3 separate regions of the Homo sapiens genome follow, and all the other regions are linked to region 1. Evidence: fine-mapped expression QTL. A gene starts in region 1. Each other region holds a variant in brackets. All regions are shown on one strand. Distances are between the middles of the regions. Region 1 holds the start of SPNS1 (SPNS lysolipid transporter 1, lysophospholipid). Region 2 has its middle 200 kb from the start of LAT. Region 3 has its middle 190 kb from the start of LAT.

What was found. PIP is the estimated chance that this variant, and not a neighbour inherited with it, causes the effect.
Region 2: its variant is the best candidate, but not a certain one, in a credible set for the expression of SPNS1 in blood mononuclear cells (TOPMed, PIP 0.74).
Region 3: its variant is the best candidate, but not a certain one, in a credible set for the expression of SPNS1 in whole blood (TOPMed, PIP 0.52).

The regions. Positions count from the first base shown.
Region 1 is chr16:28,969,886-28,980,211 of GRCh38, reverse strand. SPNS1 (SPNS lysolipid transporter 1, lysophospholipid) reads right to left here and starts at 5,434. Exons shown (of 12, transcript NM_032038.3): 1 at 4,820-5,434; 2 at 4,655-4,720; 3 at 2,168-2,304; 4 at 906-1,057; 5 at 741-807. The coding sequence starts at 5,060. RefSeq lists a silencer at 5,078-5,167, a cis regulatory region at 5,204 and enhancers at 5,120-5,289, 5,388-5,497, 5,578-5,697.
Region 2 is chr16:29,177,788-29,188,113 of GRCh38, reverse strand. No RefSeq gene overlaps it. Among named protein-coding and RNA genes, the nearest start is that of LAT, 200 kb to the right of the region's middle. RefSeq lists enhancers at 817-1,411, 2,180-3,379. The variant C/T (reference allele first, on the strand shown) is at 7,498.
Region 3 is chr16:29,165,480-29,175,805 of GRCh38, reverse strand. No RefSeq gene overlaps it. Among named protein-coding and RNA genes, the nearest start is that of LAT, 190 kb to the right of the region's middle. RefSeq lists an enhancer at 8,928-9,428. The variant T/C (reference allele first, on the strand shown) is at 4,045.

The DNA of each region.
Region 1 (10,326 bases):
CTGAGATTACAGGCATGCGTCACCATGCCTGGCTAATTATGTATTTTTAGTAGAGACAGGGTTTCACCATGTTGGTCAAGCTGGCCTAGAACTCCTGACCTCAGGTGATCCGCCCACCTCAGCCTCCCAAAGTGCTGGGATTATAGGCGTGAGCCATCATGCCTGGCAAAATTTTTTTTTTTTTTTTTTGAGAAGGAGTCTCGCACTGTCGCCCAGGCTAGAGTGCAGTGGCACAATCTCAGCTTGCTGCAACCTCCGCCTCCTGGGTTCAAGTGATTCTCCTACCTCAGCCCCCCGAGTAGCTGGGATTACAGGCATGCACCACCACGCCCAGCTAATTTTTGTATTTTTAGTAGAGACAGGGTTTCACCATGTTGGCCAGGCTGGTCTTGAATTCCTGACCTCAAGTGATCCACCTGCCTCAGCCTCCCAAAATGCTGGGATACAGGTGTTAGCCACCACACCCAGCCTACAAAAAGAAAAAGTTTTTTTAATTAGCCAGGCATGGTGGCGGGCACCTATAGTCCCAGCTACTTGGGAGGCTGAGGTGGGAGGATCACTTGAGCTCAGGCGTTCCAGGCTACAGTGAGCTATGACTGCACCACTGCACTGCAGCCTGGGTGACACAACAAGACCCTGTCTCTTAAAAGAAAAATGGGCGGTGGGAAGGGGTCCAAAGGTAGGAAACAGGGATCAGTGAGAACGTCGCTGACCTACCCCCAGGCCAAGACCAGACTCACCCTCAGAGCCCAGTGCCAGTCTCCAGCCATATCCTTCACTTTGGAGCCTGCAATGTAGCCCAGACCACTGTGGGAGGGAGAGAGGGGAAAAAGGGGGGACAGCCAGTCAGTCCAGTCCCCCACACCAGGCCCTTCTGCCTTCCCCCAGGCCCCAGGCCCACTCACCTGCCCACCGGAATGGCAAAGTAGAAGATGCTGAGCATCCGGCTCCGCTGGTCGGCCACAAAGAGGTCGGCAATGAGAGTGGGCGCGATGGTGGAATAACTGGCCTCCCCGACCCCCACCAGGCCCCGGGTCAGGAGGAGCAGCCAGAAATGCTGGGGAGAGAGACCGGGGAGAGGTGGCACCCCAGCCTGCAACCAGCCTCCGGGCTACCTCACCAGCCCGCTCCCAAGAGGCAGCAGGGATGGCGGGAGATGCCTGGGTTTTAGAATCACACAGACCTGAGCTTGCATCCTGGCTCCACCACTTACTAGCTGCGATTTGGGGAAAATAACTTAACCTCTCTGAGCCTCAGTTTCCTCATCTGCAAAAGGAGGATAACAACAACTTTTCACAGAGCTATTGCAAGGACTAGACAATAAAAGGTCTAAATAAGACAACCCCTGCTTGCCTGGTAGGGGAAAGTTTTTTAATTTTTTTTTTTTAATGAATAAGTGACCTTAGATGGGAGTTTATGTGTCTACCAAAGGCACCTGAAGCTAAGGACGGGTACAGTCACCCAAGGAAAGTACGTAGGTCCTGGGGCTGAGGACAGAGTTCTGGGGTGGAGTGAGAACAGACAGAGGAGGCTTCAAAGGAACAAAGAAGCAACAGCCAGGGAGGCAGGAGGAAAGCCAGAAGAGTGTGGCATCGCAAAGGTAGGAGAGAGTTTCAGGAAGGAAGAGTGGGTCAACAGTGCCAGAGGCTCCTAGCATGAACAGGACCAGGAAGTTGGAGCTGTGTTTAGCAACTAGGAGGCCACTGTTAACTTTGGCAAGAGCAGGGTCCGTGGAGTGGTGGGAGCAGAAGTCAGTGGCAGCGCTCGAGGGGTGAGCAGGCGTGAGGAAGTGCAGGCAGAGTGATGGCATCTCCCCGGCTGCTCTTTTACCCACACTGGCACCACGCTCTAGGGGCCCTTCAGGAAGTCTGATCAGGAATGAGAGGAGGGAGAGAGGGCAGGCCAGGTAGGGTTTGGAGTGTTTAGGTATGGAGTAGAAGGAGTCAGTGGTCAGGGGAAGAGGGGATAATGGACAGAGAATGCTCTGGAAGAAAAGGGGAGGATGGGGTGGGGCAGGTTAACTCAGGCAAGGAGGGGTATAAAATGGCATGGACCAGGGAAACTGCAGGAGTCCCTGAGGCCCAGTCTGCCATAGCTCCAAGGAGCAGCAGCAGAGACTGACAGGGAGGGGGTGTGGGCAGAAACAGGAGCCAGCTTGGGGCCTCACCTCTCCGGGGATGAAGGATGACCCCAGTGTCACCAGGGACCAGAAGGCAATGCCCCCGCACATGAGATACTTCCGATTGTACCTGTCACCCAGGTAGCCAAACACAGGTGCCAACACCATGTAACTGGAGATGAACACTAGGGGGAAGCAGAGAGTCACAGCTCAGCCCAGGTACCCCTACCTCCCACTCCCACCCCAGCTGGAACCACTAAAGCACAGGAGATGCCTGCCTTCTCCTTACAGAATTCACAACACCCCCACATCCCAGCCTGAAGCCCATCAGAGCTTCCTGTCAGGCGGATGGTCCAGCTCCATCTTGAACACCTTTCCAGATTTCCCATTGTATAATGGATGGTCCCACTACTTGTCAATTCCTTCCACCTAGCCAAAACAAGCTCCAAACTCCATGCATACCATGGCTCACAATGCCCCTGTCCAATCTAGGCCCTGCCTACCTCTCCACACTCATGGCCAGCCTTTTTCCCTTCCTCTGTCTGCATCCCAATGGCCCAATTGTCAAGGCCAATACCACTAGGGGTTTAGGCACCTACTGCCTCCTCTATCAAGGACATTCTCTCCTCTCCCCCTGAAACTTCACAGAGCATAGTTCCTTCAGGTTCCAGCTCAGATACTTGCCCAGGGCCAAGGGTGAAGCATGCTGCCCAGGTGAGCACACATCCAGTACCTGACTCTCACATTTACTTTTTTCTCTTTTTTTTTTTTTTTTTTTTTAAACGAAGTCTCGCTCTGTTGTCAGGTTGGAGTGCTGTGGCGCGATCTCAGCTCACTGCAACCTCCGCCTCCCAGGTTCAAGCAATTCTGCCTCAGCCTCCCAAGCAGCTGGGACTACAGGGGCGTGCCACCACGCCCAGCTAATTTTTGTATTTTTAGTAGAGATGGGGTTTCACCATGTTAGCCAGGATGGTCTCAATCTCCTGATCTCGTGATCCACCCGCCTCGGCCTCCCAAAGTGCTGGGATTACAGGTGTGAGCCACAGCGCCTGGACTGTTTTCTGTTACATAACACTTATCCCTATGGGAAAACTGTCCCACTTTAGTTTAGCGTTTTACTGGCTGTTGCTGCCTCATGCATAGCGTACTATCAGCTCCCAAGGCAAGGTCCTTGCCTGTATTGGCCATGACTGTGTTTCTTTCACTTACTTAACACACAGCCTAGTGCAAAACAGGTGCTCAATAAGCATGTGAAGAGAGTGAATAAATCCGGCTGCCTAGAAAGAGCTGCTGCTCTAACTCAACAACTCTTCAGAGGTTTGAAGACCTTGCCCTATGATCCCATTCTCATTGCTCCAGACTTCACCTCAAATACCTCCAGTTCCTCATTGGCCTGGAGTAGAGAAAAGAACACTGCAAGACCTGGTTTCAAATTCCTGTTCCGCCTCCAACTGGTGGTGTGACCCTGGGCAAGTCTTAACTCTTCTCCAAGCCTCAGTTTCTTTATAAGCTGTAGATATCACTACCTACTTCCTCTATAAAATAGGAACAGTAACACCTATTTTTGACTGATAGAAGGATTAGAAGACAAGGGGCATAAAAGTTCTTCGCAAAGTCCTACAGGTGTAATCATCACTTCCTCCAGGCCTGGCACACAATGAGTACTCAGAAATGGTTGAGAAATGAATGAAGGATGGAAGGAAGAAAAAGGGCTTGGCTCTAGCTTTGCCTCTCCCACAAGTCCCAAAGTTGTGAACAAGTAAAACACACCTCTCCCCATTCCAGACACCCTCTCCTGCCTTTACTTATTTATTTATTTATGAGATGGAGTCTCGCTCTGTCACCCAGGCTGGAGTGCAGTGGTGCGATCTCGGCTCACTGCAACCTCTGCCTCCCGGGTTCAAGTAACTCTCATGCCTCAGCCTCCCAAGTACCTGGGATTACAGGCGCTCGCTACCATGCCTGGCTAATTTTTGTATTTTTAGTACAGATGGGGTTTCGTCATGTTGACCAGGCTGGTCTTGAACTCCTAACTTCAAGTGATCCACTCATCTTGGCCTCCCAAAGTGCTGGGACTACAGGCGTGAGTCACCACACCCAACCCTCCTGCCATTATTTACTGGGTGTCTACCATGTGCCAAACACTGCACTAGGCCCTTCACAGACAATCTTTTAGTTAATCTTCACATCAGTCCTAAGAGATGATTCGTGTTATTACTTGTTCCATCTTATAGACAAGGAAAATGAGGCTTAGAGAGGTTGAGTGCCTTGCCTACCATCACACAATAAGTGGAAGAGCTGAGATTTAAACCCAGGTCTGTCTTCACCTGGGTGAAGTTATACTTAGTTATACTAAACTGACTCCCTCTTTAAATGTGGTGTCCCGCTGACCCCCGAGCAACATCAGGGCCATCACCTCCCCTAACTGGCCACAAAACCTCCATTAATGAGCCCCTAGACAGGCCAGCGCGTGGCCCCACTTGAGACAGAACAGAAGGAGGAGCGGCTGTGTGACCAGGAGTGGTCCCCACTCACCGGTCTGGATGAGCCCAGAGCTACTGTCCCCGATGTTGAAGAACTGCTCGATGTCGGGAAGGACGCCTGAGGAGAAAATTCAGGATGGTCCGGCAAAGCAGCGCCACCCTCGGGACCCTGGCTCCCCTCTCCTAGACTATCTTCCTCCCAGAAGTGAGTCCCTACCAGCCACGGTGAAGCGGTCCATGTAGTTCAGGAGATTGATGTAGCACAGCACCGCCACTATGAGAGCCGAACGGCCGGGAGACAGGCCGGTGATGCGCTGCAGCCCCTCCTGGTCCGGGACCTCGGGCTCCTCGGACTTCGGGTTCCCCGTGGACCCTGGCAACCCCGGGGTGCCAGGCACTGGCCCGTCGTCCGGGTCATCCGCCTGGCTGAGGAAGGGCGCGGTGTCGGACCCGGCCATGGTCCCGGGGGGCCGCGCCCGCCCGCGCTCCGGTCCCACCGACGATCCCACCTGCGAGGGGAGGAGGCTGGAGAAAGGAGGATGGACCGAACACAGGCGAGGGAAGTGCGCCCGGAGACGGGGAGCTTGCCCTGAAGCACAGAGCACCACTGAGAAGGGACCCGGGCCCTGTCACGCCTCCCCGTCTCAGTAGACACACAGCGCGGAGGGGACGTGCGGAATACACGTGATGTCGGGGACAGGAGCGGGCTGAAGAGGGCACGATCCCACGCGGAGGCCACCCCTCACCCGGGGTAGGAGCCCGCTGCACTTGCTGTCGCTCAGCCCGGGCGCTGCACCACGGCAGCCGCCATGTTGCTTAAAGCCGGTCATGTGACGCGGGAGCCAGGGTGGAAGGGGTCCCCGCGGGCAAGCCTTCGACACGTGACCTGCCACCCGACTACGGAAGCCTCTTGGGCGTTCCGCCCGGGCTCACATGTCATGTGACGGCCGGCCGGTCGCCGGAGTAACCAGGAACTTTCCCAGACCCTGCGGTCCCTGGAGCGTCAAAAAGAGCGTCCCCGTGACTAGGTGGAGTCGCCTGCCCTTCCGAATCTCAGCTGTCTTATCTGGAACCCCCACGTGGCAGACTCCATCTTCATCAAACGGGATAATGGGGTCTCAAAAGGTTTTGGAAGTAGTAGATACCTCTAAAAGCCAAGGAGCAGCCCTAGTTCTCGGGAACCATCCTGTCTTCCTCCCAGGGTCTGGTTGGCGGCTTTTTACTCTCAATAAAGGATGGATGGATGGATGGATAAATGGATGGATGGAGCTTGAGCAGCGCGATGGATGGAGGATTGGAGGGACGGAGGGATGGACGGACGGACGGATGGAGCTTGAGCAACGCCCCGCCCTTTGTTGAGATTCCCCAACCCTGCTAGCCTTGTAAACTCCTGAGCCTTCACCGTGGACACTTAAATACCTATTAAAGGAAGCGTCTCCACCCGCCGCTCCTGGAGCATATTTTTCCTCACTCCAATCGGGATTGGAGCCCTTGCGCCCTCCGGTGGGCTTTTGTAGGGCAGGCAGGAGCTCCTAGCCTAAGGAGACTCCCAGCTGCAGGACTAGGGTCAAAGGGATAACTTGGGAGTGGTTCTTTAGTGGCACCCTATAATCTCCAAGCTACATCTAATAAAGCACTCTAAGTAAAATTAGTATAGTTCTGTGCAAATACAGCTTCAAGACCCATCTTTCAACCAGCCCTTAAAGGCCCTCTACTGAAATCCTGGAATCTCGTGGGGAGAGCATCCCCCAACCCCAAAACGCCTTGTTAGAAACTATTTCGAGTCCGAATACCCATAATTGGCTTTAACCCCCCCCCCCCCCCCATATTAGGTGCCTCGTGTTTCAGAACCTTAAGCTTGGTTTCCCCTGGCGGACAGGAACTTCAGGTTGCAGGCATTTAATTCCCTCAACAAGATATTATTGAACATGTATGTGCCTGGCATTTTACCAGGTTTCAGGGAAAGGCAGACTTACTCCCTTCCCTCGTGGAGCTTATCTAGAGAGTGATACGCATTGTAAATTGCACCTCTGAAGTGAAAAGGCAAGCCACAGGTTGAATGAAAATATTTACAAAGCATCTATCTGCCAAAGGACTTGTATCCATGTAAAGAACTCTTTTTTTTTTTCTTTCTTTCTTTTTTTGGAGACAGACGCTTGCTCTGTCACCCAGGCTGGAGCTGGAGTGTAGTGGCGGGATCTCGGCTCACTGCAACCTCCACTTCCGGGGTCCAAGCGATTCTTGTGCCTCAGCCTCCCAAGTAGCTGGGATAACAGGCACGTGCCACCACACCCGGCTAATTTTTTGTATTTTTGGTAGAGATGGGCTTTCAGCAGGTTGGCCAGGCTGGTCTTGAACTCCTGACCTCAAGTGATCTGCCCGCCTCAGCCTCCCACCGTGCTGGGATTACAGGGGTGAGCCACCATGCCCAGTGTCATTTTAATTTTTATATTTGTAGAGATGAGTTATCGCTATGTTGTCCAGGCTAGTCTGGAACTCCTGAACTCAAGCAATCCTCCCACCTCATCCTCCCAAAATGCTAGGACTACAGGTGTGAGCCACTGCACCCAGCTCTTTTGTCCATTTTAAAAATTGTGTTTTTGGCCAGGCACAGTGGCTCATGCCTGTAATCCTAGCCCTTTGGGAAGCTGAGGTGGGAGGATCACTTCAGCCCAGGAGTTCAAGATCAGCCTGGGCAACAAAGCAAGACTCATCTCTACAAAAAAACTAAATAAATAAAAATTAAATATACACTTCCCATATGACCCAGCAATTCCACTCCTAGGTAACCACCAATGAGAAATGAAAACGTGTCCAAACAAAAACCTGTATATGAATGTTCATAAATGCATTATTCATAATAGCCCAAAAATGAAAAGAATCCACATGTCCATCAACAGGGGCATAATCTATTCATACAACGGGAATAGCTTAACAAGAAAAAGGAATGAACTGTCAGAGACGTTCGGACCAGAGTGACTCCATCTTGAGTGACGGTTAGGAAAATAAGGCTGGGACTTGCTGGACTGAATTACAGAAAGTAAGGCATTCCTAGACTCGACATGTTTATGGTTAAGGAAACAATAACGTTTACTAGGCCGGGCGCAGTGGCTCACGCCTGTAATCCCAACACTTTGGGAGGGCGAGGCGGGTGGATCACAAGGTCAGGAGTTCAAGACCAGCCTGGCCAAGATGGTGAAAACCCATCTCTACTAAAAACACACACAAAAAATTAGCCAGACGTGGTGGTGGGCGTCTGCAATCCCAGCTACTCGGGAGGTTGAGGCAGAGAACTGCTTGAACCCAGGGGGCAGAGGCTGCAGTGAGCCGAGATTGTGCCACTGCACTCCAGCCTGGGCAACCGTGTGAGACACCGTCTCAAAAAAAAAAAAAAAAAATTAGCCGGGCATGGTAGCACACACCTGTAATCCCAACTACTCAGGAGGCTGAGGCAGAAGAATCACTTGAACCTGGGAGGCAGAGGCTGCAGTGAGTTGAGAGAGCACCACTGCACTCCCACCCGGGCAACAAGAGCAAAACTCCATCTCAAATAATAATAATATAATGTTTACTAAACAGACCCAGACTTGGGAGTGTCCAGATATCCCAATATATGGAGAACAAAGCATTCCTAATTTTGCTTTAAAGATAACAATATTGATTCTTGCTAAATATAGTAATTAAGAAAATTAGCCGGGCGCAGTGGCTTATGCCTGTAATCCCAGCACTTTGGGAGGTCAAGGCAGGCGGATCACGAGGTCAGGAGTTCAAGGCCAGCCTGGCCAACATGGTGAAACCCCATCTCTACTAAAAATACAAAAATTAGCTGGGCATAGTGGCGTGTTCCTGTAATCCCAGCTACTCAGGAGGCTGAGGCAGGAGAATTGCTTAAATTGGGACCCAGGAGGCGGAGGTTGCAGTGAGCCAAGATCGTGCCACAGCACTCCAGCCTGGGCGACAGAGCGAGACTCCATCTCAAAAAAAAAAAAAAAAAAAATCCTTTATCACAAACCCTTGTAGCAGAGCACATCTCCCCATATATATGAGTCTTGTACATAAGGTGGATGCCTTCCCCTTCTTACTTTCAGGAATGTCCTACTCTGTCTATGGAGTAGCTGTACTTTCACCAGTTTACTTTTTTTTTTTTTTTTTTTTGAGACGGAGTCTCACTCTGTAGCCCAGGCTGGAGTGCAATGGCATGATCTCAGCTCACTGTAACCTCTGCCTCCCAGGTTCAAGTGAGTCTCCTGCCTCAGCCTCCCAAGTAGCTGACATTATAGGCCCCAACCATCTCGCCCAGCTAATTTTTGTATTTTTAGTAAAGATAGGGTTTCGCCATGTTGGCCAGGCTGGTCTTGAACTCCTGACCTCAGGTGATCCGCCCACCTCAGCCTCCCAAAGTGCTAGGATTACAGGTGTGAGCCACTGTGCCCGGCCCAGTTTACTTTCTTAATAAACTTGCTTTTACTTCACACTGTGGACTCACCCTGAATTCTTTCTTGCACGAGATCCAAGAACCTTCACTTGGGGTCTGGATCGGGACCCCTGTCCTGTAACAGAACTACTGATACAAACGCAGAAACATTGTGTTAAGTAAAAGAAGCCAGACACAAAACACTGCATACTGTTATTCCATTTATATGAACATCCAGAGAAGGCAAAAGTAAGGTGACAGAAAGCAGATTAGTGGTTGCCTGGGGTCATGGGCAAGAGAAGGAAACTTTTGCACAACCGTGTACATCTACCAAAACTCACTGAAGGCCAGGCATGGTGGCTCATGCCTGTAATTCCAGCACTTAGGGAGGCTGAAATGGGAAGATGTTTGAGGCCAGGAGTTTGAGGCTGCAGTGAACTATGATTGCGCCACTGCACTCCAGCCTGGGTGACAGAGCAAGACCCTGTCTCTACATAAATAATTTTTTGAAAAAATTCACTGAACTGTATGCTTAAAATGAGTCAATGTTTAGGCATATTAATTAAACTACAATAGGCCGGGAGTGGTGGTTCACGCCTGTAATCCCAGCACTTTGGCAGGAGGATCACTTGAGTTCAGGAGTTTGAGACCAGCCTGGCCAACATGGGGAAACCCTGTCTCTATTAAAAATACAAAGATTAGCCAGGCGTGGTGGTGAACACCTGTAATCCTAACTACTTGGGAGGCTGAGGCAGGAGAATCGCTTGAACCTCACTGCAGAGGTTGCAGTGAGCCAAGATCGCGCCACTGCACTCCAGCCTGGACAACAGACTGAGACTCCGTCTCAAAAAAAAAAAACAAAGAAAAAACCAAAGAAAATATCATTCTGGCTGCAGCATGGAAGATGGATTTGAGAGGCCAGAGGGGAAACAGCCACCCGTGAAGCGGCTGTGGCACTAGCCTAGGCTGCAGGCAGTGGTGGCTTGGCCTAGGACAGCATGGAGACGGGCAGAGGGAGCTGATTTGGGAGGGAGCTGGGGCTATTAAGTTGAACGGGTGATGCAGTGGGTGTGGGGGATGAAAAGGGATCAAGAGTGAAGCTTTTCTGGCTCACGCAGAGATGGATGATGCTGGGATTCTTTGAGACAGGAGTTTAATCATTCAACAAACATTTGTTAGGATACTACTGTGTCAAGGTGTCAGACACCAAGCAAGAGACTTTTTTGAGATGGGGTCTTGCTCTGTTGCCCAGGCTGGTGTGCAGTGGCACAATCACAGCTCACTACAGTCTCGAACTCCTGGGCTCAAGC
Region 2 (10,326 bases), 210 kb before region 1:
ACCAACAAACAAAAAAGATGCTTAGAAAAGCATGAAGGCTGGGCAAGGTGCCATTACACACCGGATGGAGACTGACCAGAGGACCGGAGAAGCTGGAAGCACTAATTCACTCCTCCTGTGGATTGAGCTGTGTCCCCAAATTCATACCTTGAGGCCTTAATTAGGCCCCAGTGTGGCTGTATTTGAAGATGGGGCCTTTAAGGAGGGGGCTTAGGATAAATAAGGCTTTGAGAGTGGGGCCCTGATCCACTGGGGCCAGTGCCCCCTAAGGAGAGGAGGAGACACCAGGGATTTCTGTCTCCCCTTCTCTCTCTCACTCTCATTCTACCCCGATGTATGCACAGAGGGAAGGCCCTATGAGGACATGGGGGAGGAGATGCCATCCGCAGGCCATGGAGAAAGGCCTCGGGGAATCCAACTCTGTAGGGCCCTTGACCTTGGACTTGCAGCCTCCAGAACTCTCAGCAGCCAGCGCCTGCCTCAGGCACCCGGGGCTGTGTGCCTTGCAGGCGGCCTGGGCTAACACAAGGCCTCCCGCAGTCCACAGTCAGCGACCCTGTTGAGGGCTGCTATGACCTTCTCGCCTGCACGTGCCATTTGTGTCCCCATAAGCAAAGGTCAACCTCACCCTGTGACGGGCAGGTGCATCCTTCTACCCACTCGGGAAAAATCCTCAGGGCAATGGGTAAATTCTACCTTATTTTCCCAGCCACTGTTTTGCTTCCAAAACACCAGGTAGCATCACCGACACCAAGGTGTTAGGATCGGAAGAGACAATGGAGACTCTTCTAGACCAGCCCATTGCTTTACATGTGAAGGGATACAGGGAATAGCTGGGGTTAGGGTGCTCAGTGTGGAGCCCGGCACCACTGCAGGCCCCCAACAAAAGTGAGGGGACACCCCGGAACACCCTGGTTGGAGGCTCCGCTGTGGTGCAGCCACTCGGCCCCTTCGCCTGCATTCCAGGGGTGCAGAGAGAACGAGATTGGGCTGGAAATGGGATACCCTGTCCAGCCTGTGCTGGGCACTGTCCACACCCCCGGCCCCACCAACCTGCCCAGGGCAGCAGGAGTTCAGAAAGAAATATCCTGTCGTGGGAGGGAACCCTCACGCCATCCCCCCATACAGCGCAGAACGTCACCACAGCAGCAGACGCCAGCCGGAGCCAGGGTGCTGGGGGCGTGCCCCGCCAGAGCCCTTCACGGCCAGTGAGGTGGAGGAGACGGCATTTGGAGCTGATCCCCTTGACAGAAACTTGCCCCGGCTCCAAAACCATTAATGAAAACGCAAATGGTTTAAGTCTGGGAAATCATTAGACGGCGGCTTGTGTCAGAAACACAAAGCAAATCACCCTGGCTGCGGCCTCCCTGGCAACTCTGCAGTCCTTCCGACCCTCGCCTTCCCAGAAAGGGACAGTTTCTCTAGAAATGAAGAGAGGGAAGTGATTTACCAACTGCTAAGTAATTCTTACATTTAAAAAAAATCCATCCAGAGGCCCAGGTAGGGGCAAATGGTTTTTTCCAATTAGTACAGAGGTAGCTACAAAGCACCACAGAGCCCGCCTGTGGACGCCGGGACACTGTCAGGGCTGGCACAGGGGGGCTCAACAGAAGACCCAGCCAGGGACAGATTCCACAGAGAGGCAACCAGCGGGCCAAGCAGACATCAGCAGCACGGATCCGGGACCGCGGGGGCAGCCAAAATCCACAGCTGCCAAGGCCCCGGCCCCAGCCTCGGCCAGCACCATAGACGGAAAAGCAGCTGCGCTCCCCCAGCCCCAGAAGAAACCCTGCAGAGGAGTGTTGGAGAGCTATGGAAACCAGAGCGTGTCTGTAGGCTGCTCATGGCTGCCCATGACTTTTCCAACGCCAAAGCCCATCTCAGAGGGCTACGCGTTAGGGCCAGAGCAAGGTGGGGCCTGGTGCAGAATCTTAGCCAAATGGTGATTTTTTCAACACATTTAAAATGAAATCTTCCTTTCGCTACAGTTCTCAGAATTGTTTTTGCATCCACAGCCTGAGACGCCTGCCCTCCTCCGCCCATGGCCTCACCTCCAGGCCATCTTCTCCAAAGCCAGCTCTCTCTGTGGGGCTTTCCCCACACCCTGCCCCCAAGAGCTGAGACGCAGGCGTTTCCATCTCTTCTGTTTAAGAAGGGAGTATCTACTGCTGGTGTGGGAACATCAGCTCCTCCGCAGAAACATCTTTTACACAAGTATTTATTTATCAGAAAAGGGTTTTCTGAGTTTCTGGGTTCCCATGACTTTGTTGCTCAGAGCAATTCTGCACTTTTGCTGTGATGAATGCTGGGACGTCTTTACTAAGGTGCCTTAAAAATTGCTGGAGGCTTCCTGCCAAAGCCTGGGCTCAGGTTCTTAGGAGCTGTAGCTTGCAATTCAGAAGTGGCCGAACGAGGATCCTTCTCGACCAGCAGGTTGGGTTACGGAGAACATTTACAGCAGCAGCCAACTGAGGGTGCACACAAGTATTGTTTGGTTTTAAAAGAATGATTACGATACTAATGGTGCCTACCAATCCACACGGAAGACACTAGAAGCAGTGGTGTGAGGCACACAACTATATTAACAGCAAAGGACTGCAGCAGACGCCACCCTGGCAGAGGTCTCACCCAGAGCCCTGCGCATCTGTGGACTTTTGGACAGTCGCTTACAGGTGAGCACCGCAAAGCGAAATTGGTTGGAAGCAGGGAGAGTCTGCGGCCATTTCTATCCCGCCGTTCCATCGGGAAACACTCATTCTCTGACACGCAGCCGCCCAGCGCTACCCGGCTTCCGTGTTTTAAGCTTTGGCTGAGTCACCGAACACATCAGGCTGGCTGACCACGTGGACGCTCCCGGCTGACCACGGCCCACGCCCGTGTGATCTGGGGTCGTCCCGGCTGACAGTTGAGGCCTGGATGAAGCCCATCTGCTGGGTTTGACAGTCGGCACCAGTCCCCAGGCGGCCCCTGAGGGTTCCTGTTTCAAAGAATAAGACTTTGTTTGCAGAGGGGCTGCCTTTGGGCTGAGCCGGCGGAGGAGCTCAGCTCGCTGAGGTCCCAGAAAGCTGCGCCCTGTGGGGCTTCACCTGGACGGGTGCTGGCTCTGGAGTCGCGTGTCACTTCTGTGCCATTTTCATTAGTGAGTCGTAAATTACACGTAAGCACTTTCTTCCTGGACTTCTTTGGACAATACTTTCAAACTCCATGGCTCCAAACCCCTTCCCGGGGCCTGAGGAATTCAAACCCCTGTCTCTACCCTCAGTTTCCCCACCGTGGCGAGAGATGAATGACGTGGCGCAGAATTCCACAGCCTGCCTACCGGAACCCCACGGCGCTTCTACGGCCGGGCCAGTTTCATGTTCTTCCTTAGAGGCTGCTTCCTCAAAATTAGCGACCTCCCAGCCCCCGTCCTGAGTGTCACCTCCCAAAGTCCGGAAACTCAAACCTGGAAAGCTCAAAGCTCCCGAATCGGCCCCACCCAGTCCTGGTGCTTCCTGTTCACGGCACTTTTCCCAGGCCGGCAGGATTTTCACCGTGGGGTCCAAAGACCACCTGCAGCCAGTCGCCTGAAGGGCTGATTCACAATGCAGCTTCCTGGGCACTGTTCCAGGCACTGAGAGTCCACCCACAAAGGGGGAGCAGCTATTTGCTGTCAGCAACCCCTCCGGATGACCCTAACACCCACCTGAACGTGGAGGCAGCTCAGAGGGCAAGTCTAGATTTTACCCAGATGCTATGGCTTGCCCTTCGAAATATTTATACAAAAACCAAAAAACAGCTGTAACTGAATCCAGAGAGGAAAACGGCTCTAAATTGATTTTTGCAGCACATTTTTTAGTTTATTTGTTTGGTTTTTTTGTGTTTTGAGATGGAGTCTCGCCCTGTCACCCAGGCTGGAGTGCAGTGGTGTGATCTCGGTTCACTGCAACCTCCGCCTCTCGGTTCAAGCGATTCTTCTGCCTCAGCTTCCCAAGTAGCTGGGATTACAGACATTTACCACTACACCCAACTAATTTTTGTAGTTTTTAAGTAGAGACGGGGTTTCACCATGTTGGCCAGGCTGGTCACGAACTCCTGACCTCAGGTGATCCACCCGCCTCGGCCTCCCAAAGTGCTGGGATTATAGGCATGAACCACTGCTCCTAACCAACAAATGTTTTTTGAACCCAATGATGTGCTGGGGGGCTGTGCCCCTGCCTGACAGAGGTAGGCAACACCTGGAAAGTTCTATGGGGAGCACAGCAAAGCCGGAGGATGGCAATGCCTGTCCACCTGGAGAGGAGGGGCATGTGAGCAGGGCTTTGAAGGATAAGTAGGAGTTCACTGGGGGCAAAGGAGTTTATAGACCAGTTCCTCAGCCTGTTTTCTGACGAGAAACCTGAGACTGAAAGAGGGAAAGAGAGCCTGCCCAGCACGTGTCAGGGGTAAAGCTGCAGCCAGGAGGTGAGGCCCAATGCCCCGGCATCATCCGTGTCTCCGGGAGCTGCTGTCCTGGCATCATCCATGTCTCCAGGAGCTGCTGGGGGTGCGGGGGGTTCTTCAGTGGTGAGACCACGGTACAAATCAGTTCCCTTGCTACTTTTGGACTGAGTGCAAGACTCGCCCACTGCTTGCTAAACTCCACTCCCCAAGCCGCAGCCCTGCAAAGGGTGTCAGGAGAAGCAGAAAGGGTTGTTCAGGGATGCGCCCATCTCTACACTCAGGCTGCGGTTGCACGGAGACAGGGCGGGAGAGGCGGGGGCCGACAAATGGCCTCTGTCAGGACACAGACACCGGCCCGACAGATAAGGGGCGGCTGGACGGCTTTGGTCTTTTCCGTGAAAATGAATCCATGGAAATCTCTCCCGCCCAGCACTCACCAGGGGAATTATCTCTGGCTGAGTGAAGGCCGGAGAGCCCACGGAGGTCTCCCATGTGGCCTGTGCACATCTCTTTCCAGGAATAGCACAAAGAAGCGGGACTGGCTGCTGTCCTTCAAGGAGAATGTTCCACAATATCAGCTGATGTGGTACCAGGAGACCTTGTGTGACCTTGGAGGAAAGACTGTGAACTCAGCTTCTGACTCTGAACAATGACAAATGAACCAGGCCCAGCCCCTCCTGACCCCAGGGAACACAGGTGGCTTTGATTTAATAAATGGAGCAGGCACAAAGACAGCCAGAAGGGCCTGACCTCACCCTTGAGGACGTGCTACGGTGGCCCGCAGCGAGGGTCCCTGCCACCAGCCACGGCCAGAGCACCTGCCACATGCCAGGCACTGTCTGAGTCCTGAGGACCCTGCAGCATGTCCCACACATGAACCCCCCTGGCACAAGAGGTCATGGCCACACAAGGGGATGCTCAGCTCCATGCCGGACTCAGGCCAATGGCCCAGTGAGAACAGAGTTGGCCCCAGCACGACACCTCCCGCCAGCCCAGCCCCAGAATGATGACAGCCTCACCGCCACCAAGGCAGGGTGGTGGCAGATGCCCGAGACGGGGTTGCCAAGCCCAGAGGGAGGAGCCCATCCAAGGCCCGGATCCGCTGACAGCTTCTGGAAGGGTGTTTGCCTCAAGGACACCAGTGACCTGGGAGCTCAGGGAACCTGGAGAAAGGGTCCCATGAGCTCAAAGGAGCTGCAATTCACAGAGACATTGGTGCCGCAGCCAGGCTTCCACATTGCCCCTCTGGCCAATTGTGCCCCACAGGAGACCTCCTCCCTTAGGATTCATGATTAAAGAAAGACCTCACAGAGTGGGACGCTGGTGGGAGGCACAGCGCCGGGGCCAACTCTGCTCTCCTTGGGCCATTAGTGTGTGTCCAGCATGGAGCAGGGCATCCTCTTGTGTGGCTGGACCTCCTGTGCTGGGGCATCCATGTGCAGAACATGCTGCAGGCCCCATGGGGGTGGTGGAGCTGGGAACGAGGCCCCAAGGGAGTCTCTGAAGGAGCAAAACACCACACGCCTCTGCCCCTCAGAGGGGCAAGTTGGTGAGTGAACACACATTGATGCGTGGGAGGAATTGGGGGAAAGCCCCATTGCAGGCTACAGAGCAGGGTGCAAAGACAGGTGACCGCCGGCGTACACACAACAACGAAGGAAGCCGCAATTGCTGCCCCCTGGAGGCTGCAGAGCGGGGTGCAAAGACAGGTGACCACGGGCGTACACACAACGACGAAGGAAGCTGCAATCGCTGTCCCATTGCAGGCTTCAGAGTGGGGTGCAAAGACAGGTGACCGCTGGCGTACACACAACGACGAAGGAAGCCACAATCACTGCCGCCTGTGATTTCTCTTCGACACTCAGGGGTCCCTTCCATAGGCTGTGGTTTCTCTTCGACACTCAGATTTCCTCCACATGGGATATTCTCTGAGCTCAGCCGTCTGGTCAGCTGCGCATGGGCTGTGGAGGGCAGGAAGCCCCTGTGATGACCGGGAGGCCAGTGTGCATCCAACATGCTCACAGTCTAAGGGGTATGTTGGAATGGCCCAGGGTTGAGCAAGCAGCTGCCCGGGGACTCCCTAGCTGGCAGGGGGCACAGCATCCCGTGAGCACATCACACCCAGCAGGTGCTCTGCGCACTGGCCTGGAGGTCCCCACCTCCTCCAACTCACAGGCCCCTCCCTGAGAGTGAAAGCAGCCTGGCCTCTCCTCCCAGCACTGACCAGAACCTCTCCTGGCTCCCACCCACACCCCTGGGGGCTGGGATTCCATCGGCCTGAATTCGCAGCCCTGGACCCCAGTCGGTGCTCCCCACCCGAGAGCTTCCTGTGTCTCCCACTGCTGCCAGAATGATGGCCACAGTCTCTGTGGCTAAAACAACATGGACCGACTTTGGCTCTGAAGGTCAGAGGTCGACGTGGGACTCCAGTCTCCCTGGGCTACGGTGAGGCACGGGCAGGCTGGCTGCTCCCGGAGGCTCCAGGGAAGAATCTTCCCCATCTTTCCAGCTTCCCAGGCCCCTACATCCCTTGGCTCGTGGCCCCTCCTCTGCCATCAGAGCCAGCTGCGTGGCAGCTCCAGTCTCTCCGTGGCCTCGTCCTTCTGCCTTCCTCTTCCAAGGACTTGAGATGACAGGGAATCCAGGGTCCTTTCCCTGGAAAGGGAACCTCAGTCACATCTGCAAAGTCCCTTTTGCCACGTGAGGGCACATGTTTGCAGGATTCAGGGATCAGGACATGGATGCCTCTGGGGCTGTTATTCAGCAGACCCCTCCTGACGTGGGGACAGTTTCTCTGAGCTTGAGACACCCCCAGGAGGCCACCCACGCTGTACCGTGCTGGAAGCCCCACTGCCCTCTCTTCCAGCGTGCTCTTCTGGCCCCTTCAGCCTTAGTCCACCCGTTGGTCACGTTCAGCCCCAGGGGTCCCTTCCATCCTGGCAGCCCCGTGAGTGCCCTGGAGTCCCTCCCGCAGGCCCTTCAGACAGCAGCCCCTTCTCTCAGGTGCAAATGGATCTCATGGGCTGGAAACCACCCTTGTGCTGTGTGGAGGGCCAGGGAGAGGTGTAAGGAATG[C/T]CCCCCACAAATGCACAGCACACGGGAGCAGCCGTCCCCAGGGCAGAGACTGGAGACGGCGGGAGAGAAGAGCTGTCCCCATCCCTGGGGCTTCTGCTTCGGGCCTTGGCCACCAGATTCTTTCCCAGGAGCCCAGAAAACCCCATGGGGGCTGAGACTGGGGGGAGGGTGCCGCTCTCCCCGGGCCTCACCTTAGCTCCGTGCTGCACCTGGGGGCGGGCGTGAGACCCGGGTCCACAGGAAAGAAGGTTCCAGCCACGGCTGCCACTGCAGGTGGCATGGCTCCTCCTGACCCCAGAGAACACAGGTGGCTTTGATTTAATAAATGGAGCAGGCACAAAGACAGCCAGAAGGGCCTGACCTCACCCTTGAGGACGTGCTATGGTGGCCCGCAGCGAGGGTCCCTGCCACCCAGCCATGGCCAGAGCACCTGCCACGTGCCAGGCACTGTCTGAGTCCTGAGTCTAGTCACGCGGGCCCGGGTGGGTCGTGGTGCCGCTGGTGCATGGATGCCTGAGCAGCCTGGACTGTGCCCAAGGAGCTGGTGGTTCCAGGATTACAGGCAGCAAGGAGGGGTGCACAGCCAGGGCGAGCAGTCAGGCCCTGCACTGGGCACCGTGTGGAGGGAGGCAGTGTTGGATGAAGCTGCTGTTCCTGTTCTTAAGCCCAGAAAACACAAAGTGGCCCAGTCTCCCAACACGGGACTGCGAGGCCGGCTGGGAAAATTCCAGCTTCTCGGCCGCTTCCCAGAGGCTGGACCACTGGGCCCTGGTCTGAAGGCCCCATCAGGACACTCACCACTCATCACCCCACATCTGCCACCCACTGCCCTCATGGCCTCGGGCCACAGGAGGCTCTGGCGGCAGGGGGAGCCCGTCCATCTCCCAAGCATCCTTCTGCAGAGCAGCTGCCCAGCACTGGGGGCTGGGGCACCACCCTAAGCCTGCAGCGAGGGGGCAAGAGGCCCCCTGGGATCGGGAATAAGGAGGATGTGAAAGCCCAGCCAGGACACAACATCCAGCTCTGGTCTTCACTGGGCCCCTAGGGGAGCCAGAGAGGGGAGCTCTTGCCAGAAGCAATTAGAAGCCATTTGGAAGACCAGATCTGGCAGCAGAACCGCCGCCCTGGGCCCATTGCAGGCGCCTCTGCACCAACAGCGGCAAACCCAAGAGGGCAGCTTGGCCTGGTGAACAGCGGCCAAGCACGAGGCTCGCAGGGGCTGGATGGCAAAGCTAGTGCTGTGGGATTCCAATGCGTGAGTTTGAGAAAGGCATCTGGGATTTGCCACCAATAGCCCAGTGGGAGGGGAGGTGGGGGGAGCAGAGATAGCACGAGGGGCCGTGGTGCTGTGGCCCAGCCCCAGGTGGCATGCATTCATTATGTGTGTGTGTTTGAAATGCTCCAAAATAATTGCTTTTAAAATGCTAGTCGGTTGACTGCAAAGCTGTTTCCTTGAACATGACGCATCACCCTTCCCTGGGACTTAAGGTCACTTAAGTTTAAAGATTTTTTTTTTTTTGTAATCGTTAAATAGGCAACAATGGGCCGGGTGCAGTGGCTCATGCCTGTTTGGGAAGCTGAGGTGGGCGGATCATTTGAGGTCAGGAGTTCGAGACCAGCCTGGCCAACATGGTGAAACCCTGTCTCTACTAAAAATATAAGAATTAGCTGGGCGTCATGGTGGGAGCCTGTAATCCCAGATACTCAGGAGGCTGAGGCTTGAGAATTGCATGGGCCTGGGAGGTGGAGGTTGCAGTGAGCCGAGATCACACCATTGCACTCCAGCCTGGGCTACAGAGCGAGACCCTGCCTCAAAAAAAGAAAAAAAAAAAAAGGCAAAAACAGAGCATGTAACTTCCCAAGATAAGAGACTCTAGAATATGGACACGTCTAGAAAACAAGGAGAAAACAGCTACAAAGCCCAGCATGTTGAACTTCTCACTTCACTGTCTGAGGCTGAAAAGCAAGGAGAGAGATTTGCCTTCTCCTTAGAGTTCAGGATTTCGCTGGGCCACACGGGTGATGACAGAGAGAACATATGTCTTAAAGAGGCTTTGGAATCAAAGGCCAAAAATTAGCCTAAAACATTTCAAATGCAGCACACACTGCGTCTGTGACCTCATCTGTCCTTGAAAATAGAAAAATGTGCCTCAAAGAGCAAGAAAAATCTTTAAATGTCACGTGTCACAGGCTGGGGTGGCTGGAGGGACGTGATGTCCTCCGTCCTCTCCACCAGGGCAGAGGCAGCTGGCGTTAATCACACCAGCCCCTTATCTCTGCCCTACCTCCTGACAGGACATGAGACAGCTACGTTGACGCCAGAGTCCTGTTTTATTCTGGTTACGGCATCTCGTGGCCAACACTGTGCATGGTTCCCGAAGTTAAACATGACCCAATCAACAAACAGACGTAGTAGGGACTGGCAGCTCTGCCAGGACCAGAGAGACACCCCCCGCCCTCCCCACACCTTTGGCCTTGCTGTGGCCTCTGTCCCACCGGCTGCTCACTGCCACAGGCTGGACCAAGCCTCTGCCTTGCTCTGGCATGGCCCCAGGCATACCTCCTCCATCCCCTCCTGTGGGGTGTGAGGCCACTCCCCACTCCTGTCTCCCCAGTAGGCGGGTTCTGCCTCCGACCCTGCGCTGTTTCCCCTGCGCCTGGCACGTGGCAGACCCTCGTAAACGCTGACGATGGGCGGGAGGAAGGGCAGATGGGAGGCCCAGAGCCAGGGGCTCTCGGTGTCCTTGCGAAGAGGAAGGCAGTGAACACAGGGAAATAGCGGCGGGTCCTTGGTCTGGTGCCGCTGGCCGCCAGCCAGGCAGACAAGTG
Region 3 (10,326 bases), 200 kb before region 1:
TGGTCCCTTCTGGAGGTGCAGGGAAGAATCCATTTCCTACCTTTTCTGGCTTCCAGAGGCTTCTGTATTCCTGGGCTCATGGTGCCTCTGATGTCACCACGACCTCTGCTTCCATTGCCACTGCCTGCTGCTGACCCTCCTGCCCCTGACCTCCCGCCTCCCTCCTACAAGGATGCCCGTGATGACCTTGGGCCACCCAGATGACCAGGATGGTCCCCACCTGGAGGCCCCTTGCTCAGTCCCATCTGCACAGGCCCTACTGCCGTGGGAGAGGCACATAGCAGGCTCCGGGGACCAGGACGGGGGTGCCTCCCAGGACCTCTTTCCCAGGCTGAGCGTTTCATAGCAGGCTCCGGGGACCAGGATGGGGGTACCTCCCAGGGCCTCTTTCCCGGGCTGCATGTTTCTTTCCTAGTCCGACTCCTGTCTTCTAACACTGGTTTTGGTGTCTTTTGTTACACAACTGCTTTAACTTCTTATGTAACTGAAGACGTCCATCTTGTCCTTTTTGGGATTAGAATTTGGGGTAGAAAGTCTTTTCCTCCACCGGAATTATACAACTATTCCATTTTTCTTCTTTTAAACTTTTTTTGCAATTTAGCGGATTTATCTGCACAGAATTTATTGTGTCCGTAAGGTGGGGTTCTAACTTTGTTTTTCCAGATGGTGGATTGATCGGCCCAACGATGCCTTTGAATGATTCTTTCCTCTCTTTCAAACATGACCAATTTCCTACATTAAATTCTCTTGTAAATGGCCATATGCTAGACTTGATTTTTTTGTTTGTTTGCTTTTTGAGACAGAGTCTCCTTCTGTCACCCAGGCTGCAGTGCAATGGCGTGATCTCAGCTCACTGCAACCTCTGCCTCCTGGGTTCAAGCGACTTTCCTGCCTCAGCCTCCCAGGTAGCAGGGATTATAGGCGCCCGCCACCACACCCGGCTAATTTTTGTATTTTTTAGTAGAGGCGGGGTTTCGCCATGTTGGCCAGGCTGGTCTCGAACTCCTGACCTCAAATGATCCACCCACCTCGGCTTCCCAAAGTGCTGGGATTACAGGCCTGAGCCACTGCACCCGGCCTCAATTTAAAATCCACTTATCTGTTTCTATACTGAAATTCCTCCTGGATTAACACAGTTTTAGAGTATATTTTGGTAACTAGAAGGGCAAGGCCCCCGGCTTTTCTGCAGGATCTTTGAACATCGTGTCTCTCACGTTCTGCCTGCTCATTTGTAAATCAGTGTTGTCACAGACTTTCCATGCTACCCCCCGATTTCTACATGGCTCCGTCCTGCTTTCCTCCGTGCTACCCCCGGATTTCTACATGGCTCCGTCCTCCTTTCCTCCGTGCTACCCTCCGATTTCTAAATGGCTCCGTCCTCCTTTCCAAATATTTATTCCTCCGTATTGTATTTCCCTGGCCACTTTTCTTACCAGCAATCTTACACCTTCCATTTAATATAGCCAAAGTTTTTTTTTTTATGACTATATTTTTCATTTAAATCGGTTCTGCCACTTCAATTCCAAATCCATTTCTTTTGCTCCGGACTTTCATTATGACTCCCTCTTTTGTATTAAATAATTTTAGATAAACACATGTATTTCCTGCTGTTCAATTATTCCCTGTCTGCACAGTGCTGATTGTGTGTTCACTGCACTTGATCCTGACAGTTCATTTCTTCCTGTGACTGTTTATTGGAGCTCAAACTCGGTAGGAGTTGTTCTGTGTATCTTTTGTTGTTGATGCTGTTGTTTGGAGACTGTCTCATGAATGCTGGGCTGAGGAAATGTCCTCATTTACCAGATCCTCTGGCCTGGGGTTCTGTGAATTTCTTTCTTAGGGATTCTGTGCTGTGCCAACCATGCAGTCACCAGACTCAGGTGTCGAGAAGGTCTGGAGATTCTATTTCTTACGGGAAACTTCTTTCCTCTACTCAAAGCCTGGACAGACAGCAATTTTCCTCATCATGTCCCCAGGCCAGGGGACAAAAAGGTTTCAGATCCACTTTTCACAGCAATTTTCTTCATCACGTCCCCAGGCCAGGGGGCAAAGAGGTTTCGGATCCACTTTTCACAGCAATTTTCCTCATCACGTCCCCAGGCCAGGGGGCAAAGAGGTTTCGGATCCACTTTTCACAGCAATTTTCCTCATCACGTCCCCAGGCCAGGGGACAAAGAGGTTTCGGATCCACTTTTCACAGCAATTTTCCTCATCACGTCCCCAGGCCAGGGGACAAAAAGGTTTCGGATCCACTTTTCATAGCAATTTTCCTCATCACGTCCCCAGGCCAGGGGGCAAAAAGGTTTCAGATCCACTTTTCACAGCATGTGCAGTTCCTTGGGGCTCTGAGCCTCCTGGCTGGGCTCATCCCAGCTTCCAGCATGTGGGATGCAGAGCAGTCTCCGCTCTGACACTCGTCACAATTCTCAGGGTCTCCGAAACACCCTCTCATTTCACTCTTCATTTCTAGTCCTGAAAGCTTTCCCTGTCTTTCTTTCAAGCTTGTCTATGAACTTAAAATGTTGCAGGTTACATTTCACCCAGAATGTCTATGTGTTTACAGTGGGAGAGGGTCCCCTCTGTCAGCACAGCCTAGAGTTTCACCAGAGGCCTCCCTCTAGCATTTTCCAGGCAGCCGAATGGTGAATAGCTGAATAGCTGTGCTCACACTGCTTATTTCTTTTTCTTGTCTTATTCCTTTGGTGATGACCTCAGATACAACATAGAAAAGTAGCAGCAAGGCCGACACCCTTGTTTTGCTACTGACTTTAGTGGAAATGCTTTAAATGTGTTTCCATTAGGAATAATATCCTATGCAAGTTTATGAAGTTAAGAAGGCTGCTTTTTATGTCTAGTTTACTGAAATCAGGAAGAGATGAATTTGGTCACATGGCATTTTGAATGGATTCAGAGGTTAATCTGGTGGTGGGTTGTTATGTTCCTTTGCAGAATCAACCTTGCATGACTACAAATGTCCCTTTTATTCAGACACTGCCACATAAAGTTTACTAATATTGTATCTAGGGGCAGATTCCTTTTAAAAAGATGACTTTTCTACTATTCAATCAGGCTTATGTAGAAGGAAGATGAAAATTAGGAGGTTTATGTGTTATGTTATTCCAAGAGGTAAGGAAGCTAGGGCTATGACTCTGTGTAATCATCCCTTGACAACCCACTGGGCGCTCCCAGACAGGCACATCCCCTGCCAAGACTTTGGTGTGGCATTTGGGAAAGTGGGGTGAGGGCAGGGGAGGGGCCAATCCCAGCACTAGGACATGGTTTAAACAGGATTGTGATTAGAAGACAAACAACAGTGAACTCTTGCCAGTGAGTAATGATTCACCAAGTACTACAAAATTATGGCTGAGTTTGGAATAGTAAAGTCCCTGCTCTTGGATGCCAAAAGAGTCCATGGAACATTCTAGAATGTGATAGTTTCAACACACCTTGATAGTTTGTGTGTCTGATTACATGGTTCTGCTGTCCAGCGTCACAGACACTGAGTGAGACGGGCACTCCCTTGGACCGGGAGTGGTGGAATGCTCCGTGATGGGGTGAAGGCCACACCAGCTCCTCTCCAGGCTCTGTTGTTGCTTTAACCCGGCTCTATCGTCTTGGGCAAGACAGCACCCCTACAGCTTTCCAATCCCATCTTCCTCTTCCCACCCTCTGTCTCCCTGGGCTAGCCATGGTCTCCCAGCCAAATCTGCAGACCCAGGGCTCTGCACCTCACATTGCTCCCTGAGCCTTGACCATGCCTTGTATCAAACATCTTTCTCCTCCTCAGTTGTAAAGAAGCTCATCTTCTAAAGACTACAATAACCCCTTGGCTGTCTTTCCCTTCCCTCTTGCAATGAGTTACCATGGCTCATAGCATAGTTATACACACACAGTTATATGCACACATGGTGGTATGCGTACATAGCTGTGCACACACTGTGGTGGTATGCACGCATAGCTGTATTCATGCACAGTTGTATGCATGTATAGCTGTATACATGCATGGCGGTATGCACATATAGCTGACACGTGGTTGCATGCATG[T/C]GTGGAGTATGCACACAAGGTCATATGTGCACATAATTGTATACATGCATGATTGCATGCATGCATGGCTGCACACACATGGCTGCATGCACATATAGCTGTCACACACTTGGTTGTATGTACACAACCGCACACATGGTGGTATGCACATATGACTGTTTACAGTTACACACGTCTGTATGCATGCATAGCTGTACACAGGCTTGGTGGTATGTACGCACAGCTGTATGCACACATGGTTGTATGCACACGTGGTTATTGCATGCAAGGTTGTATGTGCACATGGCTGTATGCACACATGACTTGCACACGCATGGTTGCACACACATGGTGCTTGTGTGGTGGTATGCTCACATAGCCATATGCACACATGGTTGTACGCACACATGGCTATATGCACACACAGCTGTACATGCACATGGCTGTATGCATCCATAGTTACATACATGCATGTCTGCCCAAGGATGCTGAGATCTTTGACTGTGGAGGACAGAACTTATCTTTGCATCCTCCCCTCCCAGTGGCCAGGCTCACGACAAAGCCCTCCACAGTCATCATTCAGGTACAAACTGCACCAACCTGAGCACTCACCCAGGCCCTGCCCTGTACTGGGCATGCTCGGTACATGAGAATCATCTAATCTTCTCCAAAAAGAAGGCAGAGCTGGCAGGATGGCAGCTGGGGACAGACTCGTAACAGGCACGAGGCAATCTCTGGATGAGATGAGCCATCAGACGTCCATCGTTCAGGCTCCAGGCCTCCTCTTTGAGTAATTAGCAAAATGTCAATGGGCCCCCACGGGCAGGGCCCACGCTACATCTGCTAGCTAGGTTTATTTGTGAAGGGCACACGATACAGCAAGTGCCGCTGACCAGGAGCACACAACTCATTCATCTAAATGTTCTAAAACCCATCTAAAACCCTGGCCTGGGGTTACGAATAGCCAGAAATAGACCCTGCTGCCGCCATCTGGACCCAGCCTCCTGGCCAAGCCGGAGACAGCTGCAACACGCCATCCTCAAAGCTCAGGACAGCTGCATGCCTTGAACATGTCTCTGCTTTATCCCAGCAATCTAACAAAATGAAAATCAGAGTTGTGAGAAGGACATCTGTGCCTGTAGGGCGGGCCGGATGGGATGAGGAGGAGGAGGGCAGGGGCCAGGCTGGAAGACAACGCTGGAGGTGGCTCTATCCTCGCAGCCTCCCCAGCGCAGAGGAACCTGACTTAACAGCAGTGGCTTACATTTCACAACGGCTCTGGCACTGCTGTCCAGCTGCACTTTCATAGGTCCAGGGACTAGGACATGGACAACTGGGGGACCTTTGTCCAGCTGAACACATAGAATAAAACATGGCTGGCTCGGCACGGTGGCTCACGCCTGTAATCCCAGCACTATGGGAGGCCAAGGTGGGTGGATCACGAGGTCAGGAGATCAAGACCATCCTGGCTAACACGGTGAAACCCCATCTCTACTAAAATACAAAAAATTAGCTGGGCGTGGTGGCAGGCACCTGTAGTCCCAGCTACTTGGGAGGCTGAGGCAGGAGAATGCATGAACCCAGGAGGCAGAGCTTGCAGTGAGCCGAGATCAAACCACTGCACTCCAGTCTGGGCGACAGAGCGAGACTCCATCTCAAAAAAAAAAAAAAAGAATAAAACATGGCCAGCTTCACAGTGAGATCCCTGAAGACAGATCTGTGCCTGTGGATCACGGGTCCCAGCACCAAGCCGGTGTCGCTGAGGAACCGAATGCCCAGGAAAGAGGGGCCCCGGGTGTGGGTGCTCCTCTGGGTGTGAGTGCTCCCCTGGGTGTGGGTGCTCCTCACCAACAGCTAACGTGTGGGGCCTTCCTGTGCCCCAGCCAAGGTGACACGAACACCCCAAGTTTTCACCCCTCAGGCACCCATGAGATGGCCCCTGCCCGGGAAGCAGCCACAGGCTGGCACTGTTGGCCCAGATCGACCCTGGCCAACCCCGTCCATCTGGAGTCAGCCCCATCTGGCGGTGTCACTGACAACAGAGTCAACCAGCCCCAAATTCTCCCCAACAGATGACTTCTCAGTGAGCCTGGAATTCCAAACATTGAGTAGCAGAACAAAGCAGATGACAAATGATGTGTGCCAGAGAGGATTCCTCGGGGGAGACTGGGCTCGGCCAAGAGGCCTTGTGAGATAAAGGAGGGGAGAAATGAGGACACTGAAGATTTACAGAGACGATTCCTTCATAGCCCTGCCCCACGGAATGCTCGGGTCCCCAGGCCAATAGGCTTCTGTTCCAGATGCCAGCAGGGAGTGCCGATTCTTCCCAGGTGGTCAGGAGCCCCTGCTGCCCGGGGCCTCACCCTGGCTTCATCAGCAAGGCAGGCACATGGCGGGGGGACTGACCCCTGTCCAGGAGCTGCCTGCAGGGAGGAGCGGCCTGGGGACTTTCTTTTGAAACAAGATGAAAACTCTGATGAAATGAATCAGTTAACAGAGAGAAAAATGGCAATGGGTATATGGCAAGGAGTAAATATCCTCCATATAGAAAGAGCTCTTATAAATCAATGAGGAAAAAACAAATCCATTTAAAATTTTAAAATAATATACACTGGCAATCAGCCAAAGAAAAAATGCAAACAGCTGTCCATCCTAACTCACAATCCATGACACCAGCTTGCTCGAGGCACAGGCCAACTGCCAGGCGGCAGGGATTTACAAGTGTGGCAACACCCTGCTGTCAGGGTGAGGAGGCGGGCACACCCACACGGGGTCGGCAGATGGAAATGGATGCAGCTTTTTAGGAGCTTCTTGGACATCCGCCTGGCTTTTAAATGTGCTTATTCTTGATTCTGTAATTCCACTTCCAGGAACTTATTCTAAATAACTAATAGATACATATGCAAAGATGGATAAGTGAAGACATGCATTGCAACATGGCTCATTGCAGAAAGTAACTACACAGAATGATCTAGACCCATCCATAAGGGGTTTGTGAAATGGATGGTGGTGCATCCACGCAGACCTCTCTGTCCTCCTCACTGTGTCCCCAGCTCCCAGCACATGGTTCCAGCACACAGCACGTGGTTCGTAAACGTTTGCCCAAAGAGTGAGTACAACAGTGCACCGTGCAGCCATGAAAAGGAACAAAGCAGTGTGTCCCAACGCAGAAGGATGGCCACAAAATACCACCGGGTGGAAAAAGTGGTTATAAAGCTAAATGCCAAGGGCTGCCCATTTACATGACAATACATTCAGAAAGATGATGCTCTAAACCTAAGTACTGGGATCACTGTGATGATTCCATTCATTCATTCATTCATTCATTCATTCATTCATTGTGACAGAGCCTCGCTCTGTCGCCCAGGCTGGAGTGCAGTGGCGCGATCTCAGCTCGCAGCAACCTCCACCTCCGGGGGGGTTCCAGTGATTGTCCTGCCTCAGCCTCTTAAGTAGCTGGGATGACAGGCGCCCACCACCACGCTCAGCTAATTTTTTGTATTTTTAGCAGAGACGGGGTTTCACCATGTTGGCCAGGCTGGTCTCGAACTCCTGACCTCAGGTGATCCGCCCACCTCGGCCTCCACTCCCTTTGTAACCTGGTGCCGGTGAAGTCCTTGAGTGCTGCACCCTTGGCTTCCTTTCCCCACACACCGTGGTTTTTAACTGCGCCATTCTGCCTGCGTGGTGGTTTCTAGGGACGCCGATATCACGTTTTGGCAGAACCGACTATACCTGCTGTGTGCGGCATGCAGTTTGTCCAGAGCATACAGCGAGACCTCTCTGAAGACCCCCAAATGGCCTCGACCCCGGCTTTTGAGGGAGGGCTGGACAGCTCAGCCTCCCGTTTCCTGCGCACGCACCCCGATGCTGCAAGCTGCCATCTGGGAGGCTTGGTATTCGGGTTAGAGACAAACAGCGCCCGACGGTAATGGTCCTCGAGCCCAACTCTGCCGACCCACGCATTCAGTTTAGTCCTCTTAATGCAGATCTAGAAATGGTTTTTCACTGAAGAGAAAACTACAGAAACTTCTGCCACCACAGGACCAGGACTTGATCACAAGCAAGAAAAGCTAAGTCTGAAACTGGTAACTTTTCCAAACCAAAGACCAAAGCATGCCAGGATTCCCTCAGAGGGGCTTTGGTGGCTGGTGTGGCAATAGCCTTCTTTTTCTTTTTTTCTCTTTTAGACAGAGTCTCGCTCTGTGGCCCAGGCTGCTGAAGTGCAATGGCACGATCTTGGCTCATTACAGCCTTGATCTGGACTCAAGTGATCCTCCCACCTCAGCCCTCCTGAGTAGCTGAGACTGCAGGCGTGTGCCACCACATCTGGCTTTTTGTATTTTTTTGTATTCTTAGTAGGGATGGGGTCTCCCATGTTGCCTAGGCTGGTCTCAAAATCTTGGGCTGAAGTAATCCTCCTACCTCAGCCTTCCAAAGTGCTGGGATTATAGGCATGAACCACCACTCCCAGGCAGCTTCAATTTAACAAAAAATATATTTATCACCTATTGAATTCCAAGCACTGTGTTGAAAGAGGGTAGGACCCCAGATAAAGAAACAGATACTTGCATAAATCAATGCAATGCAATATAGAACTTGTAGCAAAAAAAACCGGTATGTGCAAAGTACAGAAGCAGAGGACAATGAGTTCTGTCTTCTCGGCTCCACAGATTCCAAGGAAGAACAGAGGCAGTGACAAGACTCACCGAGGACCTCCTGCCCACCAGACCCTGCCGAGAGGCTGCCATGATGGCTCACCAGAGGCCGAGATGACCCTAAGGCTAACCCCACTTTAAGATGAGGAGCCTGAGGCTCGTGTTAGTTTGGTTCCTGGCATGACGCTGTGGCAGGGCTGGGGAGCTCATCTCTCTGACCCAGAGCTCACGGGGATGAGCTCCAGTTGGAATGAATGAGTCAGGTACTTTTTGATAGTTGGAAGTTAACGCTTTATCACTGCATTACCGATTGTTTAGGAGCTCAGGCCCTTCCAGGTGGAGCACCCTCTAAGCAAAGTGTAAAGTGTTCTGAACCACAGTGGCGCCACTTCATGGAGGATCGATTGTATTTGAGGGTTGGAGGGTGAGAACAGCAAAAAATAATAATTCAACCAGTTGGTTATTATGAACATCATTTTCATATTTTTAAAAATATGCTATATCATGGAATTCAATGTAAAACCTCAAGAGATGCCATCCTTGGAGAGGGCTGCACCAGCCTGTGCCCCAAGTTACCCAGGATCACCCCCTACTTCTCCTGACGGCCCCCCGAGAAAGGCCTGCATTCTGGGCGACGTGGCCTTCAGGGGCTCAACCCTTGGCCTCGAGAGGGGCCACCCATCCTCAGCGGCTCAGGCATCTGTGCTGGTGCTGTCTCGCCATCTGGGTCACCCAACAGCTGCCATCCTCTGCCCTTCTCCCAGGGCCCAGGGAGTAATTCCCATAGAATTCACACAGACTAGAGGCCGGTGGGCCGAGACCTAAACAGGGGCACAGCCCCTCCTGTGCAGAACCCTGGGCCTACACTCACTGCTGTGGCCGCCGGCACAGGCAAGCCTCATGCCTGTGTGTCCTGGAGCTTGGTTCTGGGGAGGTGTTTTGGGAATAAACTCTTAGATCTTCAGTGTTGGGCTGGTCCTTCACAGTCTCCCTCATTTAACTGAGGTGAGGAGACAGCAAAACCCTCTGGAAATTTGGAGTAGGTGTTGCTTCAAGAAACAGAGTTTTCCTTCTAAACACAGTTCTTGTTGTCACCAAATCCAACCTTCTTCATCTCAAATACAGAATTCAGATGGAAAGGAGGCCACCCCACCCTCAGCCCAGTGCTCAACTCACACAGCAGCTCCCAAGGTAGAGGCGAGACAGGGCAGCCCCAGGCCCTCCCTGCCGCCTGCAGCACTGACGGCGCTCATCACACCAGCCTTTCCACTCTCAACAAATGGTTTCGCCGTATCTGAATACCGCCCTCCTCCTCCCGCCCCAGAATGCTGTTCACTTATCTTTCTTTAAACAAATTTTCTCATAAACTGCAATGCAAGTATTGAGAAATCAAACTTGATATTACTACTGTAAAGGAAAAATCAGAGTCGACTGACCAAACAGAAAGTCGCCATAAAAATGAAAGCAGTGAAATCAAGGCGATAATATTCTATTCTAGTGAGATCCTGGAAGCCAGGGATTCGTTGCTGAATTCTATTAGACATTTAAGGAAGAGAATGACGTCAAACTCATACAAACTTCTTCAGAAAGTGAAGGAGGAGGGACTGTTTTCCCATCTGTGTTATGAGGCCTGTGACGCGGACAA